2 separate regions of the Homo sapiens genome follow, and region 1 is linked to region 2. The links come from fine-mapping of genetic effects on gene expression. A gene starts in region 2. The other region holds a variant in brackets. All regions are shown on one strand. Distances are from middle to middle. Region 1 overlaps MAP3K20 (mitogen-activated protein kinase kinase kinase 20). Region 2 holds the start of MAP3K20 (mitogen-activated protein kinase kinase kinase 20).

Region 1 (8,340 bases), 65 kb after region 2:
GTGGCTTAACAGAAGGACATTTTATATTTGGGGCTTATTATGAGTTAAAATGTGATATATTTGCCAGAAAAGTTAATGTGATTTTCAAACTGTGATGGGAAGATTTTAGAATCCTGAATGAAGGAGATCATACCCTATTCTTCTGTGTTTAAAGTTTTAGATCTTTTCCTCCTTTGCTGTTTGGGAAATCAGCCAGCCTCTCTGGGACTAGGTTTCTGCACTTATAAAATGGGGATAATTTCTGCCCAGTTATATTTCTCTGAATTGTAAATGTCAAATATAATGAATGCAGGAGATATCATTATCACTCTAGACAATTTTATCACATTTTTTCATATGCTTCAAAACCCTTTTCCTTGATATGAGTGACAACTTAGTATCACCAGTTTTTATTAACCATGTATAATTTTAATTAACTGAATTTAAATTAACTAAAATCTTAGGGATTGTAGCATATAGATTATTAGACTTGCTTTAAACACTCAGTAGAAATGTGAGCATCTAAGTGGTTGGTAAATAGTGAATTATTTTTCACTGCTTTTTAGTTTAGATATTCATTGACAAACCTGTGTGCTACACTGACCAAGGTGTTGTAGAATAAGTTGTACTGAATACCTTAACAACATCAATGCTAAAATTAGCTGTAACAAAAGCAGCATGTGCCACCTTGTTGAATAGCCTGTGTTCCACTTTTAGGGAAAAAGGATACCCCAGGAATATAGGGAAAGAATAGAGTGGCAGTTTCTTTTTACAGCATTTGCTGATGGCACGGAGGAATGTGATTTTTGGGGTGTGGGGCTCCTTTTTCCTGTTCGTTCATGTTTCTTTCCCTCTTTTTGACTTAGTCACTGTCATAACAGAAAATGCATAATATGGAGATCAAGAGCCTGCAGATTACAACTCTAATTATGTTTTAAACCCAAACATGAAAATTAGAATTCTTTTACACACAATCTGACAGTTTTCCATCAGCTTTAAATTGGCATTTTGGATTGTGTTCTCTGCAGTGCCTGAAGAGCCTCGACAGAGAAGGAAAGAAGCAGAGGGTGAGAAAGAAAGGAAGATTCTAAATGACAATCTTTTGAATAGTGCAAGTTCAATCCCTAAAACAAAAAGCAAGATCTTTTTTCCCCTAAATAATGTGCTCTCCGGCTTCACCTCTCATCCTGAGGAACATGAAAGAGAACGTAAAAGAGGTGACCCAAATCACAGAGTGCCTTTGATAGGAGAAATTCAGCTGTTTTGAACACTCACAATCAAAGGAAGTGGTTTCCCTAATTACATGAACTATGTGAAATCTCTCAGAATAGCTCTTCCACCCCAGGATTCCTTGCACTTTAGAAGTTTGCATAAAAGCTCACATAGAGAATCAGATGCAAAGTGTTTGATTCAGATTTTATTAGGCAGAAGAGTGCCCACATCCATCCTGCAGTTTGCCAGCTGCTTAGGTTAGGACCACTATACCTGGTTTTGATGTGGTTGTCTTTCAAACCTGCAACATTAAGATCTTTGTTCTATCCTTTTCTTGCAAGAAGCACCACTTTTTAGGGAGAGTAGCGATGAAAATTTTTGGAAGATTGGTCTTCTCAATTTCTCTCCTGACCTAAAAAGGATTGATGGCTGTGTTTGTGAACTTTACGTGGGAAAACATGCTTTCCTGTGTGTTTGTAGCTGGCGAGTGTTAAAGCGTTAGATTTGATTAAGCTCTTTAATCTGTTTAAAAATGGTTAAATGTCACAATGACTTACCTTAAAATTTATATATGCAAAATTCCCCATTTACTGTCAGGATCTAGACTAGGAATCTGCCAAAACACCTGGACTAAAGAATAATAGTGATTATGGCTTATTAGATCTTTTGTGCCTTGGTAGTCACCTTGTTACTGAGAGATACGGTGTAGTGTAGATGTGTACAGAAGAGAATTATAAATACCCTATGTTCTCTGTTTGGGAAGGCAAGTATAAGTATGAATGCAGAAGACAGAAGCATCCATTTTAATTTAAATGTCAGCTTGAGAAGATTTTTTTTTTTCTGGTTGAGTAATTTTAAAGTAAGAGAAATTGTCTAGTATGTAATTACATATGAGTAAGAAGTGTGCATGTTTTATTTTGTCTCTTTTCTCTCCCTCTCTTTTTTTCCTTTTTCCTGTGAATAGGTATGTTGCTCTTATTGTAGTTTATAAAATATTCTTTTGAGAATCTGTGTGTCCCAAAAAAGAAAAGGGAATCTATGAGCAGAAATGGAAGGAAATTTTATTTTTACAGTTTTTAAAGTACTGGCTTTAATTGTAACCCACATAAAATTTCCTAATACTAGTGCTGTTGACACGTGGGCATCAACATTTAAGTAACAGAAAGTAAAAGTGATCCTCAACCATACAAGCCACAAAAATCTACTTGAACAATTACCTAGCAATTTCTTTCTACTTTAACCATCCTCATTTATTCCAGGTAAGTAGCTTATTTGAAAAGACACGTAGATTAATAAATATTTGTGATTTTTTGTTCTTTTTTGAGACAGGATCTTGCTGTGTCGCCTAGACTGGAGTGTGCAGTGGCGTGATCTCGGCTCACTGCAACCTCCGCCTCACAGGTTCAAGCAATTCTCCTGCCTCAGCTTCCCAAGTAGCTGGGACTACAGGCGCCCGCCACCCAACCCAGCTAATTTTTTTTGTATTTTCAGTAGAGACGGGGTTTCATTATGTTAGCCAAAGTGATCTTGAATTCCTGACCTCGTGTTTCGCCCGCCTCGGCCTCCCAAAGTGCTGGGATTATAGGCGTGAGCTACCGTGCCTGGCAAATACTTGTGATTTTAAAGGGATGTTTAAAATCTGAAAGTGTCCATGATTATGAAATATGCACTTTTTCTATTTTGTGTGTTTTGAACTCCTAATTATGGATGTGTTAAGGTTTGGATATTTTGTACACAGTCATAGCATTGTAATATGGGGAAGATTTGAAAGATGATGAAGGATTGACACTGTAGTGTAGGTTTTTTGCTTAACAGGTGGGTTTTCACATAATTGTGAAAAGTTCTGTTCTCTTAGAAATCGAATACAATACACAAACTGAAATTTTAATAGCTATTTTAGTCCAACAGCCCCAAGCCCTCATTTTAACAATCAGTAATTTGAAGTTCAGATAGGTGATGTTCAGTAGCAACAGATTCAGTCCAAGGGCCCAGGTCTTTGGTTTGCTGGTTTGGAGCTCTTACACCCTGTTAGGTTCCCTCTGTGTCTGTTGCTTTTTAAATGATACTCAACTGCCTACTGGATGCTTGTGACAAGAGAGAAGGTTTGATATTCCTGAATGATAGCCACTTATTTGATAACACTTTAACATTAGCACCAAAAGGTCATTTTGTTTTCCTTCTTCATCTGGTACTTCTATCAGCTAGGGCCATAGTACCACATGAATTGCTGTTCTAGATCAAGATTGTAGCTAAGTCATTTCAGACACTGCGAATTCTGTATCTGTTTTTAAAAGTCCACAGGCTGTCTGGAAGTGGGTTCAATCATACTCACCATTCAGAAGTTCTGCTTAATGGCTGGCTTAAGTAACTTTTGTTAACGTTTGAACTTGGTATCCTCAAATGATAGTATATAATATTACTCAGTGCTTTGCCATTTGTAAAGCACTGTTACTTACATTATTTCCTTGCAAATGATGAAGCAAGTGTGTATGATTCCCAGAAGCACACTGGAGAAGTACAGTGCTTAATCTGAGGTTTTTCTGGCTTTGGACCCAGTGTGTGCTCTACTCATAATAGAATCTCAGCTTTGGAAAGGACTTTAATTGACCATATTTCCGATGCCTTAATGTCCTCCGAAACATTACTGCCACAAATGGGCATTTACCTCCTGTTTGAATTCTGATTGCTTATGAAGGAGAACTCAGTAGCCTCCTGGGCCAGTCCCTTTTATCTTTGGGAAACTGACTATTAGAAAGTTCTTCTCTGAGTTATTCTGAGTCTATACCATATGCTGTCTAACAGTGCTTGTTTGGACCAAGGATAAAAGGATCAATGTAATGCTGTAATATGATTTTAAAAACAACATTAAAATTATACTCTTCAGAAAACTCTTACAAAATGACATTTATTAGGTGCCTACTTTCCCCCTGATTGTTATCTTACTTATAAGTAAAATAACTTCATTTATTTTAGCTTTTTAGTTTTCTGTGAATTTTTAAGTTCTTTTTCTTGCTTGGTGGAATCTCTTCCAAAAATAAAAAATGACCAGTGCTTACTTAAGTAAAGGAACCAATATGGATATAGTTAGTAAACGAAAAGTAGATTCCTAAATATTTTATTTTACACACTCAGTATCATGTTTCTTTTTAAAGTTTCTATTCATAGCCATTTGTTTACTGTGACCCTGCTATACTTACACCCACATATTTCCATGTTATATTTACTTCCTAGATTTTAAATTTTTATGTTAAAAAAGTAATACATGTTCAGTGTAAAACAAGAAATTTCAGCAGTATGCAAAGTAAAAAAGCAGTTTTCCTTCCCTGCAATCCTATACTTAA[T/TTTTA]TTTATTTATTTATTTATTTATTTATTAGATGGAGTTTCACTCTTGTTGCCCAGGCAGGAGTGCAATGGCGCAATCTCAGCTCACTGCAACCTCCGCCTCCCGGGTTCAAGCGATTCCCCTGCCTCAGCCTCCCGAGTAGCTGGAATTACAGGCGCGTGCCACCATGCCTAGCTAATTTTTGTATTTTTAGTAGAGATGGGATTTTGCCATGTTGGCCAGGCTGGTCTCAAACTCATGACCTCGTGATCCACCCACCTCAGCCTCCCAAAGTGCTGGGATTACAGGCATGAGCCACCACGCCCAGCCACAATCCTATACTTTAAAATCATTAGTTTGTGAGTAACTTTCCAGATTTTTTTTTTGAGATGGAGTTTCACTCTTGTTGTCCAGGCTGGTATGCAGGGGCACAATCTCAGCTCACCGCAACCTCTCTGCCTCCTGAATTCAAGTGATTCTTCTGCCTCAGCCTCCCAAGTAGCTGGGATTAGAGGCATGCACCACCACACCCGGCTAATTTTGAATTTTTAGTAGAGATGGGGTTTCTCTATTTTGGTCAGGTTGTTCTCGAACTCCCAACCTCAGGTGATCCACCCGCTTTGGCCTCCCAAAGTGCTGGGATTACAGGTGTGAGCCACTGCATCCAGCCCAGATGTATTTTTTTCTCTGTATTTATAACTATCGCTAATACTATTCCCCCCATAAAAATGGATCATGTGAAGAGGGTGGCATGAGGGAACCTTGTGATGAAATTTTCCTGTATCTTGACTGTGGTAGGAATCACTTGAATGTACGTGTATGACAAAATTATGCGGAACTAAACATATACACACACACACACGAGTGCATATAAAACTGGTGAAATCTGAATAAAGTTGGTGGATTGTGTAAATGTCGATTTCTATTGGGAGAAACTGGTTGAAAAATATATAGGTTCTCTCTGTATTATTTCTTATAATTGCATGTGTATCTATAATTATCTCAAAGTAAAAACTTAAAAAAACTAGATTATGATATTTTATATGTATATATATCATAAAAACGTGTCCCAATGTGTAAGTTGTAAATCACCTCGCAACTTACTTTTTGAACTTAGTATACTGAGGCACTTTTTTATGTGACTACACGTAGAGCTACCACATTCCTTTTAATAACTTTTTTATTTTGTATTTAAATAATATTTGTTTACTTCACATTTACTTTTTATACTAAATTCTCGTGTAGTATTATTAGAAAAACTAGACATGTGAAGTAAAACATATTAGACATGTGAAGTTGTAATTAGCAGACAAAAGACTACAAAGCAGCTTTTATAAACATGTTCAAGAACTTAAAGGAAACCATGGTTAGAATGAGAGAGCAGAATCAGTAATTCAGCAGGAAGATGGAAACTAAAAATTCTAGAACTGTAAAACTACAGTCTCTTTAAATGTAAATTGTACTGATGGGGCTTAACAGCAGATTGAGGAAGGCAAAAGAAAAGGTCAGTATATGTGAAGACAGATTAATATAATTTATCAAATCTCAAGACCAAACAAAAAAAATTTTAAAAATTGAGCAGTTACACATGAGACAATGTCAATCTAATATACATTAATGGAATCACAGAAAGAAAGGAGAGAGAGAGAGGGGATGGATAGAAAAATATGTGAAGAAATGATGACTTCAAGTGCCCCAACTTTGATGAAAACCATACACTTACAGTTCCAGCAAGCTCAGAAAACCCCAAGCAGGATAAATTAAAAATGAAAACCAGAAACACCACACTCAGTCACATCATAGTTAAACTGCTAAAAATCATTGATGAAAAGAGAAATGTCAAAAACAGCCAGAAAAAAAAGACACATTACATAAAGGAAGCAATACCAGTTACTTCTCACTAGAAACAATGGAGGCCAAATGACAGTGGAATGACCTGTAATATGCCAAAAGAAAAAAGATAACTGCCATTTTAGAGATCAATACCCACTTAAAATAGTCTTCAAAACTGAAGATGAAATAGACATTTTTAGATAAATGAAAGCTGAGATAATTTATTGCCAGCAGATTTAGTTATGGTTAATATTAGGGTAAATACAAATGATCATTTTAAAAATTCTTTTAATTTCTTCAAAAGACAACAGCTAAAAGGAAAGTTGCAGTGTTATATTATGGGTTGTATAATGTATGTACGTTAAAATATATAACACATGGCTGGGCGTAGTGGCTCACGCCTATATCCCAGCACTTTGGGAGGCCGAGGCGGGTGGATCATGAGGTCAGGAGATCGAGACCATCCTGGCTAACATGGTAAAACCCTGACTCTACTAAAAATACCAAAAATAAGCCCGGCGTGGTGGTGGGTGCCTGTAGTCCCACCTACCCAAGAAGCTGAGGCAGGAGAATGGCATGAACCCAGGAGGTGGAGGTTGCAGTGAGCTGAGATCGTGCCACTGCACTCCAGCCTGGGCAACAGAGCGAGACTCCGTCTCAAAAAAAAAAAAAAAGTAGTATATATATATCACAATGACACAAAGGATGGGGAAGTGAGCAAGCATCTTACATTTTATGTGTAGCACAAAATTAAATCTAAGTAGACTGTGGCAAAAATATATGTTGAATTCTTAGAGCAACCACTACCTACCCCCACAAAAAAACAAAACAAAAGAGGTATAGCTAAAAAGCCAATGAATGAATGAAAATGATATACTAAGAAAAAAATTGTTAAAACAAAGACAGGAAAGGAAAAACAGGGGAACAAAAAACAAATAGAACGAATTTTTAAAAACCAAGATAGTAAACTTAAGCCCAGTAATATACATAATTACATTAAGTATAAATGAATTAAGCACCCCAATTAAATGGCAGAGATTGCTAGGCTGGATGAAAAAGCAAGATCCAGCCAGGCACAGTGGCTCACACCTCTAATCCCAGCAATTTGGGAGGCCAGGGCAGGAGGATCACTTGAGCCCAGGAGTTCAAGGCTGCAGTGAGCTGTGATCACACCATCGCACTCCAGCCTGGACAGCAGAGCTAGAACCTGTCTCAAAAAGAAACAAACAAAAAACAAAAAAATAAAACAAGACCCAACTATATGCTATCTACAAGAGGTGTATTTTAAATATAAGACACAGATCTGTTGAAAGTAAAAACATGAAATGGGAAAAGAGGGGTATGCAAATAGAAAGCATAATAAAGGTGTAGTGGCTCTATTAATATCAGACACAGTATGGACTTCAGGAACCAAAAGTATTACTAAAGATAAAATGATTTAATAATGATGATTTAAAAAGTCAGTTTCTTAAAAGATATAACAATCATAAATGAATATTTATCCTAATAACAGAGCTTCAAAATACATGAAGCAAAACTGATAGAACTAGAAAAAGAAATAGACAAATTCACAATTACATTTGTAAATTTTAAATATCCCCCCCTAAGCAACTGAGACATTATACTTAACAACTACAAAATATACATTATCTTCAGGTGCACATGGAGTGTTCTCCAGGATAGATCATAAAATAAGTTTTTATAATTTTCAGTCTTTTAAAGGGATCTGCCAAAAAACCTACACCTAACATTTTAACTCAACGGGGAAATATTGAATGTTTTTCTCCCTAAGATTAGGAGTAAGACAAGGATATCTGCTCTCATGATTTCTGTTCACTGTTCTGTAGAGATCCTGGTCAGTGCAGTAAGACAAGAGAAAGAAACAAAAGGCATTAAGATTGGAGAGGAAGAAGTAAAACTGTCTTTATTTGCAGATTAAATGATTGTTTACATAAAAAATTTTTTAAAAATCTACAAAACAAATACTAGGACTGATCA
Region 2 (8,340 bases):
CGTGGTGGCTTGCACTTGTGATCCCCACTACTCAGGAGGCTGAGGCAGGAGAATCGCTTGAACCCAGGAGGCGGAGGTTGCAGTGAGCCAAGATCATGCCACTGCACTTCAGCCTGGGTGACAGAGTGAGACTCTGTCTCAAAAAAAAAGAATAGAAGGCTCAATGCTGAATGGATGTGACAAACTCAGTTATGATTCAGTCAAAGTTTAGATATAGCATTTTAAAGAAAAGTAGCATGGCAAACAATAGTAAAGAATGAGCAGTGACTAGGACTCAAGACTCAGATATGTAGGACTTTATCATCCCACATGACCATCAGGTAGTATGGTCCCGAGGAGGGGACAGTTGTTTAAGGACAGGGCTGGCACCACATCCCAGATTTTCTGCCATTTAGCAAAGTGCTCTCTTCCCTGCTTGATGCAGCTGCCCTGTTACGCTGCGTCTTGAAGCAGAGAACAAGGCAACCAACTCCCTTCAGACTCTAAAATATCAGTTCTCAAAATGCAGCCTGGGGACCCTTTGGGGGGTTTGCAAGGTCAGAACTCTTCATAAAAATATTGACACTCTCTCATGAGTGTACAGTGGAATTTCCCAGAGGATATATGTAGTATGATATTGGAATAGATTAAATTCAGAAGCAGATATTAGAATCCAACTTTTGTCTACTAAGCTAAACGTTAAAGAGATTTGCAAAAATGTAAAACAATGGTATTCTTTCAGTTTTTAAAAATCTGGGGCAATGGTTATTTTTCACTAAAATGTTATTTATGTTAACATAGATAGGCTTATTGGCTTATTATTTTTAAATGGATTAATTTCTAATTTTTTTTTTTTTTGAGACGGAGTCTTGCCCTGTAGCCCAGGCTGGCGTGCAGTGGCACCATCTCAGTTCATTGCAACCTCTGCCTCCCAAGTCCTGCTTCAAGCAATTCTCCTGCTTCAGCCTCCCGAGTAGCTGGGATTACAGGCACCTGCCACCAGGCCCAGCTAATTTTTGTATTTTTAGTAGAGACGGGGTTTCACCATGTTGGCCAGGCTGGTCTCGAACTCCTGACCTTGTGATCAACCTGCCTCAGCCTCCCAAAGTGCTGAGATTACAGCCGTGAGCCGCCGTGCCCAGCTTTAATTTCTAATATAATAAATTTGATAGATATGACTCACTTAAAAGCTATTTGGCATCCTCAATGACTTTTTTAGAGTGTAACGGAGTCCTGAGACCAAAAAGTTTGAGAACTGCTTGATTTGAAAAAACAAGCCTAAAGTCTACCTTTTGCTCCCTGAGGGAAGGCAAGTTGCCCAACTTTTCCAAGACTTTTTCTGGCCCCATAGCATGGGATGATGACTTAAAACTACCTGCTAGGGTTATTGTGAAGACTAAATGGGAAGACGTCTGTGTAAAACTCTTAATTCAGTGCATGGCGTATGACTGTTCAGTAAATATTAACCATCTATTATTATTATTGCTTCTGCTATTACTGTTACCACTACTATGAGGGCTATTACTCCCTGCTGGTGATGTCTTTACTCAGATACATGAAGAACTTATTCTTTGAACTTGCTAAATGCTCTCAGGCCATTGCACTTGTTTCCTTTGCCTGGAATATCTTTCCCTCCTTTTTGTCCAGCAAATCCTCTTCATTTCTTCTTGTATTAACTTCGAGCTTCTTTGATTTAGAAGCCTTCATTGACCTCTCAAAACTATGCTAGGTACCCTGCTGTAAGCCCCAATCTTTGCCCCTTTAAGAGCATACCATAGTGTAATTGCTCGTGTCTTTGCTGGCTCTTCCATTGCACTCCGAAAACTCTGTGAGAGAGGGGACCATGCTTGTTCACTGCTATAATCATAAAGCTCTGCACAGTGCCTGGCAGTCAGTAAATGCCTGTTGAATACATTTTGTAAAAGTCTTCAATATGTCTTCTTGCCACACCGCTCCTTTCATGTCCCAGGGTGCCTAAATAAGCTCGATATCCTGCATATTCCTGTAAATCTCTTTGATCCTCAAGTTAGATGTAAACACTAAACTCAAACAATGATCTGGGCTTCATTTATGATTTTAAGGCAATGGTTAAATGACTTAAAGGATGTTTGATTATATACCTTAATTTCCCAGGGATTCAGAGTTGTACAGGAGGTAAAGCCTTGGTCTTTGCATAAAAGTTGGGTAATTCTTAGCTATGATCCAGGCATAGACTATTCACAAGTTAAGATGGAAAACTAAGACGGCTAGAGAAAATGCCCCTGGGTGCCAGCTTGTGCCATAACTCTTACCACTATAAGAGGAGGGGAGGATAAAGACTGCTTTCTTCCTTTTAAGTTGCCATTCCTTCTGCCATTCGTAGAATTTATGTCTGCACTTTTCTCATCCACTGATAGCTAGTGGCAGTTTCAGAATATCTATTTGAAGAGGGGCTTAGAAGAAACAGTCCCATTGAATAGGGGGATAGGAAAGTTTTTCCTTAAGCTATATTTATATTTTTCAACTTAGATTGCATGTTTATTTTGGAGAATGTTCTTGGATATAAGAGGGTGCTAAGGACTTCCAAGCCACCTCACTGCTAAGAGTACATCTATTTTTAGTGTGGAAACATTTGAAGTAAAGGAATAGGCAGGTTTGATAAGAGAAGTTTGACTAGGTCTCTTTTGTTATTGCTTTTCACACGGGTAAACCTAAACTCTGCCTGGTGAGCATTAACCAATTCAAAAAAGATTTGAAAGTTCAAAAAAGCAGTCGGTGTTGAGAATACATACTAGACCATATTTATTAGGTCTGGGGCCTAAAAAGATCAGTATAATCAATAGGAAACAGGCAGCTTGACAAAAGAAAAACCAAACTTGAGGCAATCAGTTTATCATACAATCATTATATATTTATTTCAGCTATGGACAATACATATGCAGATACCACACAATATAAGATGTGACCTCAAAGGGCTTGCAACCTATTTGGGAAGACAAGAAAATGTCTACTAGATTATCATTTAAGCATGTTTCTGAAACTAATCTTTAGTGTTCATTGTTCCTGCTGGTTATTCTCTTGGCCTAATTATGTGAGGAAAACAGAATGAAGGCAAAGGGATGGGAAGCAAGGGCAATGTGGCTAAAAATATTGATGCTCTTAAGCCATGTGTTCCAAATTTAAAGCAATACATTCATGGTTTTAAAGCTGGAACCTGCAACTAACTTCTAATTAGTCCCTCTTATTTTACAGAGGAGGAAACTGTGGCCTATCCTGCAAAGCACTCTAGCTGATAACTGGTAGCTCTAAGACCAGAAGTCAGGTTCTCTGACTCTCAGTCTAGGGTCCTTTCCAAAACAAACAAGTGCCTCTGAAGGTAAGGTAAAATGACTGGAGTCTTCCTATGCCTGGGGTCTATGCTAAAGAGCCTTAGTTTTTCCTTGAATGGATAGGATGGAATTATTTGAATTATTTTATTAGACCTGCATTATACATTTTTTTAGCATGGCAATTTTCATCAATTCTAATTTCTCAGTTACCAAAATAAAATTTATTAATGCTAAAATCTCCAGTCCTTATCAAAGGGCAAATTAATCAGACTAATAAATTGTTTTTTAACCTCTACTCATTCATCCCTCAACTTTCATATCTTTAACCTATTGAATGACTTACAAATTTTCTATTTCACTCTTGACCTCTTTCCTGAATTTCAGTTTCATATTTCAGTTGCTGCATCTCTACCTGTTTTTACTCCTATGACCTCAAACTCAACATGAAGCCAGCTTCCCTTTCACGTATTCCTATTTTTGTCAATGACACCATCATTCTTCCAGTCATCCAGGTCTGAGATCTTGGCATCATCTCTCTTCTTCTTCTCTTCTAAATCTTGTGGGTTACCAATTTCTGTGGCCTCTTGCTGAAACGTTTAATATTTCTCTCAATTCCATTTCTTCTTTTTTTTTTTTTTTTTTTTTTTTTTTTTTTTTTGAGACAGAGTCTCACTTTCATCCAGGCTGGAGTGCAGTGGCGCGACTGTGGTTCACTTTAGCCTCGACTTCCCCAGCTCAAGCGATTCTCCCACCTCAGCCTCCCGAGTAGCTGGGACTATAGATGTATGCCACCACATCAGGCTAATTTTCTGATTTTTTTGGAGATGAGGTCTCACTGTGTTACCCAGCCAGGTCTCAAGCAATCCTCTCAGCTTGGCCTCCCAAAGTGCTGGGATTACAGGTACCATGCCCAGCCCATTTCTTCTTTTTAATTCCATTTCCTACATCCTAACTCAGGTCCTCATGATCCCACAACCGGGTGGTGACAATATCTACTACTCATCCTGGTTCCATCCTAGCAACCCAACCTACAACTACTGTGGACTACTCTCTCAAAATTACCATTTAAACAGAATCACAAACCCCCATTTCACCCCTTTGATTCTAATTTTTCACAGCTCCCAGTGTCCATGGATAATAAAATTCAAATTCAAAATCCTGAATAATGTTGCCCATGCCCTTGCAACCTCCTCTCACTTTTCCTTCACAGAACCATCCTCCCCAATCAGAAATTTCTTTTCTTCCCAACGCCCACCTCCACCTTTGGCTTAGGCCTGTAACGGACTCTGGCTCCTCTTCTGAATTCTGCTCTGTTAAAATTAGCAACTAGAGCAGCAGACCACGGCCCCTCCTCAAAATTCCAGAGGTACCTACTGATCTTTCTAGAGAGGCAGCCTTCAGACCTATGTTCCCAGAAATCTCTACGTTTGTGCCTTTCCCAACTAGAGAATTAACTCTTGCGGGGCACAAAACAGCCTCTATTTCTTTGCGTCCCCAGCGCCTGTTTGTTGAAGACTGAGTTGAAGGAGTAGCAGGTGGTGTTAATTTGTCAAAAAGATGAGTTAAGGTGCTGGGGGCGAGGGGGAACACCCCCACGGCCCTCCCCCCACAGCAAGGCAGGTGTGTCTGGGGGCCTCGGCGGGTGCCGGGGCGCGGGGCGGATGGTGCCCCCCGGGCGCAGGCCAGGGAGGCCCGAGCGCCTTCCCCACGCCCCGCTCGCCCGCGCGTGTGAGGGGAGGGCGGCCCAGCCGTTTCGCGCCGGGAGGTAGGTGGTGCTGTTGCCGTGACTGTCTTCCTCATTGGCGCCGTGCAGAGAGGCGGAATGTTCAACTCCTAACTGCAGCGGAAACGTGGGAGCCGCGCGGGCCGCTGTCGTCCCAACCCCCGCCGCCCTCGTCGCGCGCGGGGCCTCCGCGCCCCCGGCTGCTGCTCACGCCCCGCCCGGGAGCCAGGTAGGGGTCAGGCTGGAGCCCGCGGAGGGCGGGGAGGGAGGGGGCGAGGCCCGCCGCGCTCGCGAGTCGTCCCTGCGTCTCGGGGCCGAGGCTCCGCCGGAGCCCGGGAGTCTAGGCGGCCTCGGGAGGCTCCTCGGGGCTCCCCTCCCCGACCCAGGGCCCGCCCGGCGGCGGCGGCCGGAGCGAGCGGGCGGGCGAGCGAGCGAGCGTTCGCGGCGCCCGGGAAGTCCTCGCGGGACCTTGGCCGCGGCGCCGCCAAGTGCGGTTCGGGAGAGTTCGGGCCGGTCCCATGGAGAAGTTGGCGCCTGGAGGCGCGGGCGCAGGCCGGAGCGGCCCCGGCTTTCGCGGTCCCGGGCGTGCGGCACGGGCAGGGGCTCCGCGAGCAGCAGAGCCGGCCAAGCAGCGGGTGACTGGGGCACTGTCGGGAGGCGAACCGCGAGGCCCCCAAATCAGGGTAGGGTGCAGGCCACTTCCCAGCACTCGCTGTGCGTGCGAGGAGGGACGACGAACTTCTGCTTTTCTAAGAACTCGACCGCGAGCGGTGTTGCTTCCCATCCATTTTCCTTCATTCTGTTTTCCTCACACAATTAGGCCATGCGAATAACCAGCAGGAACAATGAACACTAAAGATTAGTTTTAAAAACATGCGTAAATGTATCCAGAGCCACCGCTCCCCGCCCTTCCTGCCCCGGGCTTGGGCAGCATGAAGCGCCCGCCCTCTCGGGCTTCCCCCTTTCCTCCCACCGGAGCCGGGGATGTCTCCTTTGGCGACCCTCAGGCAGCGGCTTTTTGTGGGCTCCCAGACCTGCACCAGGCCCAGAAGTGCTTACCCAGGCCGTCGCCTCGTCTGGCCTCGCTTGCCCATGACAGCTTTCAGAAAACTTTAATTCAGGACTGGCTAGATGACATCCGATTGCCTAAAAAATTTTTTTAAAAAGTTATCTCTGTTAGATCGCTGAAAATGTTATGTTTCTGATGCGCTTTGAGATCGCGCATAAGTACTGTTTATGGGGAACTTAATTACTATTTTTGTTAGTTTCTGTAATAATGAAAGCAACACAATTTAGGGGCCCATTCCAAGTATGGTACAGTAAGCAGCTCTCGATACTGGTGTGTGAGAATCGTCTTACAGAGTGAATTTGAGGATGTTTGACTTAAGATTGTTGAAAACTGTACTCCTTCTTTAACCCCGAAGCTGTTTTGGAAGAGCCTTCTTGCTTCCTCGACCTTCGTTGAAATGAACAGCTAGGATTTAGTGGATCCAAACCTCCAAACACGTTTAAAGACAAAAATAAACAAGTGATTCAAGGCTAGTTAATGTCCTCTTTGTAGTAGGCCTATCTCCACAGTGAAATTTCACTTGTTTTTCAATTTTCCAAAAAAAAAAAAAAAAAAAAGTGATGGCTGCATTTTAATTATGGTTATGGTCATTTGTAGAGTCTTTGTTTTAAATTCCTGCTACTATAGTGAGAGATTTAGGAGATTGTAAATGAATACGAATTTAGTTTGGGAAAACAGAATTAAGATAAAGAAAAATGGTCTTTTGGACCACTGCACTGTTTATTTTAATCTATCACAATTTAATTCCTACTATAACTTTTTGAGATTATTTGGGGAGTTTTTTAACTACAAAATATTGTTTAAATAAAAAAATTTAGTGATAATAATTCCAGAGTAAATGACCATGATGCAATTGCAAGGACTTTCTCCGTTGTCTAAAAAAGCAAATAGATGATTGATCCGTTTTTCTTAATCTTTTAGGGAATATATAAGGACACAGTAAAGAGAGAAAAAAAAATCCAAATATTAAACACTCGGACTTGGATCTAAAAATGGATGGTCAAAGATCTTGGGAACTAAGGGGCCTTCTTGCCAAATAAGGAAACTTGGCAAGTTGCACTGTGTATTTTAACTTAGCACAAGAGTGAGTGTTATTGGCAATATATTGGCTCAGAGCCTATCTGGAATGAGCAGTGAAACTGACTTTGATAGGGCTACAAAATTATAAATAGGTTTGTGGGGGCGTGGAGTGAATAATCGAATCATCAGAGAAAACACTGAAAACTTTTCATGAAAATAAGTCAGATGTAAGGTGAAGCTATTAGTGTGGAGTGACAGAGCAAAATGGACAGTTTATTTTAGAAAGTGGTAGATTCAGAAGAGAGGAGAGAATCAGTGGTTTTTTTGTTTTTGTTTTGTTTTTGTTTTTGTTTAAACTGGAAAAAGATGTTTGTGGGGATATAATACTTCTTGGAATAAGATAGCCCTATGTCTGTATCCTGAGATGTTGGAAATAAAAATGAATTTAGATCACTTGTTTTCCATTTTATTCTACCCAGGACAGATTGACAGGGTGAGTATCTTGTCTATCTAAATGTAGTAGGAACAGTTAAGGCACCTTTTGGTCTTACTGCAAGGAAGATTTAGGCTAGTTTTTTGGTAGCTATTAACTTTGCCCCACTAGACACAAATAAGCAGAGTTCCAGCTGTGACCAGAAAATTGTACCTGGTAAGGGAAGAGGACTATGAATGCTAGAGCTTAGATTGATTCGACTGATACATGGGTGCTTTTATGTCAGACCCTCCTACGGATGCTGAAGCATCGTCCTAATAGCTGTTAAGTAATCCCAGCACAGTAGAAGAATCTGTGAGAACAAAGCAGCCCCACATTTGACACCCTAACCCCAGTGTCTTCAATTGTAATAGGAAATTAAAGCCTCAAATTGAACTTTAGGTGGATGGTGAGCAATCCAGTAATTACTGTAATAAGAAAATAGTTTAAATAGGGTAAACAAAAGGCAAATTAGAAGGAGGAGGCAGAATGTTATTAACAAAAAGACATGATATGGTAGAAAACAATGATATGACTTTGGAGTCAGGCCTGAATTTGACACAAGTTGTGTCACCTGTAAGGTAGTTGGCTTGAGCTACTTTCATACCCCTGATCCTCAGTTTTCTCACTCATGTAAGTTAGGAACAGTAGTACCTGCTTCCTAAGGATAAGTACAGTCATGTGTCCATTAATGATGGGGATACGTTCTGAGAGAACTGTGTTGTTACGTGATGTTGTAGTTGTGTAAATACCACAGCGTGCACCTACA

The links. PIP is the estimated chance that this variant, and not a neighbour inherited with it, causes the effect.
Region 1: its variant is fine-mapped to the expression of MAP3K20 in aorta (GTEx, PIP 0.97).

Annotation. Positions count from the first base shown.
Region 1 is chr2:173,135,471-173,143,810 of GRCh38, forward strand. The region is part of intron 2 of MAP3K20 (mitogen-activated protein kinase kinase kinase 20); the gene reads left to right. Among named protein-coding and RNA genes, the nearest start is that of MAP3K20, 64 kb to the left of the region's middle. RefSeq lists an enhancer at 3,724-3,893. The variant T/TTTTA (reference allele first, on the strand shown) is at 4,533.
Region 2 is chr2:173,070,764-173,079,103 of GRCh38, forward strand. MAP3K20 (mitogen-activated protein kinase kinase kinase 20) reads left to right here and starts at 5,083. Exons shown (of 20, transcript NM_016653.3): 1 at 5,083-5,239. RefSeq lists silencers at 4,778-4,827, 4,908-5,647.